Linked DNA regions of Homo sapiens. The protein of the gene in region 1 interacts with the protein of each later gene in a pairwise test. Each region holds a gene or a part of one and is shown in the gene's direction. Other genes may lie near its edges.

Region 1 (3,801 bases):
GAGGAAATTATCAGAAAACCATTTCTCTTTTCTTTTTGATATTTGTGGCACTGTTTTCAGGGTTTTGATTCACAAACCAGTGCACCATAAACTGGTGCTGGGGTATTGAAATTTGTTTTCTGGGCTCCTTAAATATAAAGGTGGGCACATTTATCAAAGTCGGTAGAAAAGAGCCACATTCACCACTTGGTCGCTGTGATGGGGTGATGGGTTATGGGACTTTGCAGTGATTAGTAGTGCACATCATAGATTATGGGATAAGTGTCTGCACTTTAGTGGTGGTACAATGCTAAACAGCCGAGAAGACTACAGATACTCTCATAGTTTACAGACGACAGGCTTCATTTTGTATGTTAATAGAAGGAAGACTTCTGATAGGATGAGGAAATTCACCATAACAAATGCATTCTGTTTACTGCACTCTAGCATGGCACCAATTAAAATCAGCAGTATGTATGATGTACTCTTAATTCCTAACAGTCCCAAGAAGCGCTAATGTGAAAAATATTTTATACTTTTACATTTTACAGGTCATGAACAGATGGAAAAAATTATGCCAATTGGTAAAGACATTCACTTGCAGTATAACACTCCTCAAAATGGTGTTTACGTGGGTTCTTCTTTAAAAAAAAATTAAAGTTATCTTGGGTAAAATTAAGTTAGTACTTGGGTTTTTTTAAATGTTGTATCTGTAATACATTTTAATTTATTCCTTCTGCAGAGCTGAATGTTTGAAAGTACAGGTAACCTTGTAATGAATAAAACTGATAAAAGGTTGTGTTCAATGAAAGGGAAATTATGGAATGATTATTCACTTTGCAAATGGGTTTGTCATAGGGAAGCTTTCCTAAAGCATTTCAAATTTAGTTTAGTTTATAAAACGTTCATTTACACACAAAATTTCAGGAACAAATTTAGTGAGGAAATGAGATGAATAGTCATAATAAGATAGAGCTCCCTTACACTGCTAACATTAATGCTTTCTCTGCGTCCCTTCTTGCAGCACTGATAGCCATTGGGCGATACAGCATGACAATAGAGACTGTGGATGTCGGATGGTGTAAAGAAATCACAGACCAAGGAGCCACCCTGATTGCACAGAGCAGCAAGTCTCTGAGATATTTGGGGCTGATGAGATGTGATAAAGTAAGAGTTGACTATCAAGTTGTTTGCTTTCTACATATCAGTATAGTTAATAGCTTGATGTCATATCCTCTCTCCTTCTCTATCTCCACCCCCGTGTATTATATATTATATATACATTTTATATGTATATATGCAATTATAGCTATGCATTGTTTGCCTGCTTTTGTAAACTAATCTGAGATTATCTTTGTATTTCCCCACTTAATAATGAATTTTGTGCTTAAGTAGAAAGAAAAAGTAATCATATACATAGTCAACTAGAGTTTGGCATCCTATTCATAAGTCCATGGACCAAAATGTAAAAGATTACATGACAAACTGCAATTTGCAGGGTCTAACCGTAAAATTGTATTCTGGGTTTCAAGTTTCCAGCAACAGTAAAGGTGGAAAGAACAGTGCCAAATTGGTTTTTCACAAGTGTGTAATTTTGGTACTGAACATCTATGTATTCTGGCCATTCGGGACCAACAAAGGGCCAGTAAGGGGGTATGTGGGAATTTGCATCTCCCCATACATCAGATGCCACTCCCAGCACATGATAAGAAGTGGTTCCAGAGGTCCTGGTGGAAGGCCTGTAGAACCAGCCAGGGATGTGAGCATGAGTTTAGGAAATGGTGTAGCATTTAACGTGGGACCCTTTGAAGACTGAGAAAACAGATAATAAAAATCTATACTGACACCTGTAATCCCAGCACATTGGGAGGCCAAGGCAGAAGGATCACTTGAGCCCAGGAATTTGAGACCAGCCTGGACAACATGGGAAAACCCTGTCTCTATCCCCCTCTCCCCCAACAAAAAAAAATTAGCCAGGCATAATGGCACACACCTGTAGTCCCAGCTACTCGGGAAGCTAAGGTGGGAGGATCACCTGAGCTCAAGAGGCCGAGGTTGCAGTGAGCCGTGATTGTGCCGCAACCACCTCAGCCTGGATGACGGAGCACGACTGTGTCCCAAACAAACAAAAAAAACCTATACTGGACACCAGGCACTCCACAGGTGTTTTCTTCTTTGTTTATTCCATGTTTTACCTATAACAAGTCTAAGAAATAGTTATTTGCATTGTGAAGGGGAGAAAATGGAGGCTCAGAAAGACCAGTCAGTGGCCCCAGGATACTCTGGCAAGACTTCATGCCGGGTCTTTGGAGTCTGTATCCAGTGCTGCTGGCACAACCCAGGGGGCAGTCTGTGGCCACGGGGACTGCTTCCCTTGGAAAAGGTCCAGTTCAGATACTTGCTCAGAAAGTGCCGCCATCTTGTACTAATTTACACATGTGTGCTACTTTTGTAAATGGTGATTAGGAACAAATCTAGCAAAATAATGTGAAACTAAATAGACACGCCATTCAAAGGGCATGCATCTTCTAAATGTAGCAAATGTGGGGGCAAATGAAGTATGGCCCAAAGCTCTTGTGTCCTTTGTGATTTTTTGTTAATTGGCTAATTCTTTTCTCCAAACACTTTAGAATCCCAACTTATACGAGACCTTTGCCAGCTAGTTATGTTTAGAGAAATGTTATTATATATTCTCAGCCCAGCCCAGAAGCGACTTACTTTGTAACTAAGCAACAGCACTGAGATCCGGGGCTTGCGAGTCTCCCACAAATCTTTCCACTAACCAACCTAATGCCGCTGCTAACCCTGCCACTTTAAAATGACTTCTTTTAAGACAAGTTAAAGGGTCCACCATAGGCATAGTCCTCTAGAAACAGGAATCAATGACAGCAGAACTCCTCAGCTTCCAGCAGAAGGAACTGCCACATGAATGCTAACTAAAGCTACCAAAATGTACACATTCATACATATGTGTCCGCAGCCATTCTCAGAAATTGTCATATTTCTAACCTGTAATCTTTAGATGGTTAAGATCAGCTCCATCTTCGGAGATACACTGTAGAAGTTGTATGTTACAGTTACTACAGGAGAATGTTATTCCAGACATATTTGCTGACCAGCATTTTGCTGATTTTTAGTTAAGAAATGGGTTATTTTCTACCCAAATGCAAATTAGTCCAAAATTAAATAGAGACAGTATTCAGATTAGCTGTATCCCTGAGGGTTTTAGCCCTTTTCCTGGGCTGCCTCTGAATCCTTTCTCTAACCAGAGAGCCACTCTGAGAACCCATTGGCTCCAGCACGACGCCGTCTGGTCAGAGCCTGCTGCAGTGCAGCCCAGGGAGATGCTGGACCCAGCCTTGCTGTCTGGCTTCCTCAGACTTAAAGCAGCTCAGAGCCAAACACGAGAGGCTCTGTGAGGATGGAAGACAGTTCCAAACCACACACAAAGCACAAGTAAAGCCTTGCACAGAAAAGCCTGCTTGTTGGTTTAGTTGGATGGAAATCTAAAGTAGCTATTCAGTTTTCAGATTTTGTATCATGCCATCCATCTCCAGATTTTAAGTTACCATCAAGATTCAAAGGAAGATATGAGTAACAAAGAAAAGAAATTAGTAGCAACGGTATGGTCTGCGGAGAGCCAGAGTTCAGGTTCAGATCTGGGCTTTGCACTTACTAGTTGTGTCACCGCGGGCAGTTACTAACCTCTCAGTGCCTGTTCCCTCGTTTGCAAAATGAGGATGATACTAGTACCTATCTTGTAGAATTGTGAGCATGTGAATGAGTTAACATACATAAAGCACTTAGAATAATGTCTATTAT
Region 2 (3,715 bases), on another chromosome or scaffold:
GTCCTAATTACAGGGTCTGAGGAGCAGCCGCTATTAAAGTAGCATTTGTTCTGAGGTTGAGGAGTTATTGCCCTGCGAAGTGTGGGGGACGCTGATGCTGCCATGTGGGTGATGTGGGGCCAGGCAAACCTACACACACTGGCTGTGGCCTCTCTGGGAGTGTGTATCGTCTGTTTTCTTCATTATTGCCTTTTCCAACTACCTTTTCCTTCCTTTATCCTCCTCATTCCCTCACCACTACTCAGCATAAGCATTTTTAATAAGTCATAATAATGACCATTTTTTTTAGCATTTTCTCTCAAGTGACAACTTTGACCATCTTGCAATGGGACTTTTTCTGTCTTACTAACATTGCTTCTCAGCTTCCTCCTATTTTCTCCTATCCCCTAAGGCTGATTTTTTGAAGAAATTGAAGAATGAAGGGGAGGGATTTGGGGAACAGAAGAAACAGCATTTAACAGCTCTTATCTCATGCAGATTAAGAGCAAAGAAGTGGCATGCATTTCCAACATTTCAGTACTTAGGGACTAGTTGATTTCTTTAGTTATTATATTGTATATATAAGTGTTTTGGAGATAGGCACATTCTGTAGATTTACTTTAATAATGTTTTCAACTGCATTTATCTGGTAATGTATGCTTTTGTCTTTGGAAATGTAGTGTGTTGGTTGTTAACAGCTGATGTTTAGCAAATGCTACTATTTTTTAGAAAGTATTTTGTAAAAGTGTTCTTCTCTATTCAGTTTTTATTGTTTAACTTTAGCTCTTCCTTGTGTTGCTGGTGGTGTACACCAAAATAACTTGTATAATAAGCTAAGTGGCTCCTTTACTTAGGACTGGGCTCATTTAAATGTATATATATATGTATTTTTTTTCAGACTCTGTTGGAACTAGGAGCAGCGTATCTGTACAAATTACTGTTCGTTGAATGAATGAATGAGTGAATAAACATCCATCTCTCCTGTTTAAAAAGAAACAAACCTTCACTATTATTAACTCCCTTAAACCAAAAACTTAATTTGAAAACTCCATAGTCAGCAGTGTTTGTCCCCCAGCTCAGTCTGTGGTTTTGATGGAGACTTTTTAGACCTCCTTTCAAACAGCTCTGGGATTCTGTTTGATTTGTGGTACCCGCAGGGTGGCTTCTGGTCTTTCTCGTCCTGCTCCTCTTCTCCATCTTCACTGTGTCTTTTCCTGTTTCCATCCATTCACTTCTCTTGATGTCACGACATGACACCATGGCCCAGGCTGTGATCACACGAAAACAGGAGTGAGAACTCTTCTTTGTTTATATAGCACCTTTCATCCCTGCACAGACACTAGCTCATTAGTTCACCGAGTCAGACGGCCCTCTTGCACAGGGAAGACATGCCCATGATCCCCATTCCAGAGAAGAGAGGTGAGGCAGTTGCCTAAGATCCCATGAAGGGTCTAAAGTAAACCCTTTGACTCCGATTGAAGTTCTTTACTGGCCTTTACATTTTACATATATATATGTGTGTGTGTGTGTGTGTGTATGTGTGTGTGTATGTGTGTGTGTGTGTGTGTGTGTATAGTTGAATGAATGAGTGAATAAACACGCATCTCTCCTGTTTAAAAATATATATATATATACTTCATCTGGTTCTTTCCATTTACCATTACACATGAGTTCTCTAACTGCTTACTGAGGGCTGACTGTGCCGGGCATCGTGCTTGGTGCCATCCCCTACAGATGCCAGTAGGGCAGCCCTTGTGCCCTTGCCTGTACCTCACAGAGGTCAGGAGGGCTGCTGGAGCAGGTGGCAGGCCCCGCTTGCTGTAAATGAAAGCCTTCCCCAGAAGGATGAGTCTGTTCTGAAGCCAAGGGGCCGCTGGCCTCTAGAGCATCTGTGTGGCAGAGGGTGGAGTCATGGGAGAAATACTCAGGAATCCAGGAGAACTGTCACTTGGGCAAATTACTCACTTTCCTGGGGCTCCTCCTCCTCTATAATAGAAGATCAGGTCCCACGTAGAAGACTTTAAGGGCAACCATCATATACTTCCAGACTTCTAATAATTAAATAATGGAAGTCAGCATTTATTGAGCATTTGTGCTTAGGCTTTGTGCTTTACTCCCAATGTAATTTCATTCTCACCTCAACTTCCTGAGGTGAACAGAGTGATTTCAGTGTCATTTCAGTTTCAAGAAACATACTCAGGGTCACACAGCCAGTAAGTGGTGCAACTGAACCCAGGCTTGTCTCAACAACAAAGCCTGTAAAACTGTCCTATACACACACGTACACACATACACTTGTATTTTAAGCCGTGATTTTGTACATTCTACAGTACACTGTTGTCTTTTTTTTTTTTTTTTTGAGACGGTGTCTTGCTCTGTCACCCAGGCTGGAGTGCAGTGGCATGATCTCGGCTCACTGCAACCTCCACCTCCCAGGTTCAAGCAATTCTTCTGCCTGGGCCTCCCAAGTAGCTGGGACTACAGGCACATGCCACCATGCCCAACTAATTTTTGTATTTTTAGTAGAGATAGGGTTTCACCATGTTAGCCAGGATGGTCTCGATCTCTTGACTTCATGATCTGCCCGCTTCAGCCTCCCAAAGTGCTGGGATTACAGGCATGAGCCACCACATTTGGCCTCTGTTTTAAAATAGTCATTTTGGGAAATACATTGTTTCTGGCTTGAGATTCCTACTTCTATGCTGAAACTCAAACTATTTTTGTTGCCTATATGGAGCCTTTTGATCAATCATTCCTTGAACCATTCTACCGAAGTTGCTTGCTGACACTCTGGTCATAATTCTCTGCTTTGCATTTCCAGGTCATTAAAACACCAATGACCAGCCAGAAGACATTTGAATCTTTGGTAGACTTTAGCAAAGCCCTAGGAAAGCATCCTGTTTCTTGCAAGGTAAGAGTATGGGTAGCTTGGGAAGGAGGTAGTTCTTTTCTTCTTGGACCCTGACTTGTTCCTGGTAGAATTCTTCTCATAGAATGATGTGAAAGAAGGAGCATTGTATACTGCAAGCTTGTCCACATGCTGTAAAGAGCAATCCGTGCCTCCTGTTCTAGTTTGTAGACAGGGAAACTGGACTCCTAAGCCATGCCTAAGGCCATTATGTGGATAGTCTGAGACCTGAATGGAGCTCAGGACACCAGCTGAGTAGAAGACACGGGACTGCTCTCTGTCCTGGCTTTTGTCTCCTGATGAATGGCTGCATTTTCATAAATGATTTTAGGTACAGCTTGGTAAACACATACCTCCCTAACAGAAAATGAGGGCTTTACTTTTGCAAGAAATACTACAGATGGTGAAATAAATGATAAGACAGTGAGAGAGCAACCTGCCAAAATAGCAATAAGGAACCTGTTTCTCACCGGGAAGTTGCATTATGTTTTTATTGTTTGTTGTTTTGTTTTTCAAGAAGCAGCATGGTTTAGTGGGAAGCCTGCTTGACCTCCATCTTTTTTTTCCCCTTTCTTAAGCTGCCCAGTTATTGTATATAAAATAATCCCAGTTGCTGAAATGATAACCTACCTGAAGGTAATTATTTTGATTACCTTCAGTTTCTCCATTTGCTTTAGTTCCTCTTTAGTTCCCCCAAAACTCGGGGACTATACTTATGCATGACTTTGCAGTTTTTCTTAAGGGGTAGTTGTGTCACAAAATGCTACACCATTACAAAGATTTACATATAAGTCATCTACTTTTTTTTTAACTGTAATCCTTTGTATC

The links. Proteins that work in one complex are often made in the same cells at the same time.
Region 2: the proteins of FBXL17 (region 1) and HADH interact in a two-hybrid assay, tested with the Homo sapiens proteins (one large-scale study listed by BioGRID).

Annotation. Positions count from the first base shown.
Region 1 is NC_000005.10:107,878,382-107,882,182, reverse strand, and holds part of FBXL17 (F-box/LRR-repeat protein 17), read left to right. Parts: intron 1-1,003; coding exon 1,004-1,146; coding exon of another isoform or gene 1,147-1,320; exon of another isoform or gene 1,321-3,801. UniProt on the Homo sapiens protein: Substrate-recognition component of the SCF(FBXL17) E3 ubiquitin ligase complex, a key component of a quality control pathway required to ensure functional dimerization of BTB domain-containing proteins (dimerization quality control, DQC).
Region 2 is NC_000004.12:108,020,674-108,024,388, forward strand, and holds part of HADH (hydroxyacyl-coenzyme A dehydrogenase, mitochondrial isoform 2 precursor), read left to right. Parts: intron 1-2,800; coding exon 2,801-2,890; intron 2,891-3,715. UniProt on the Homo sapiens protein: Mitochondrial fatty acid beta-oxidation enzyme that catalyzes the third step of the beta-oxidation cycle for medium and short-chain 3-hydroxy fatty acyl-CoAs (C4 to C10).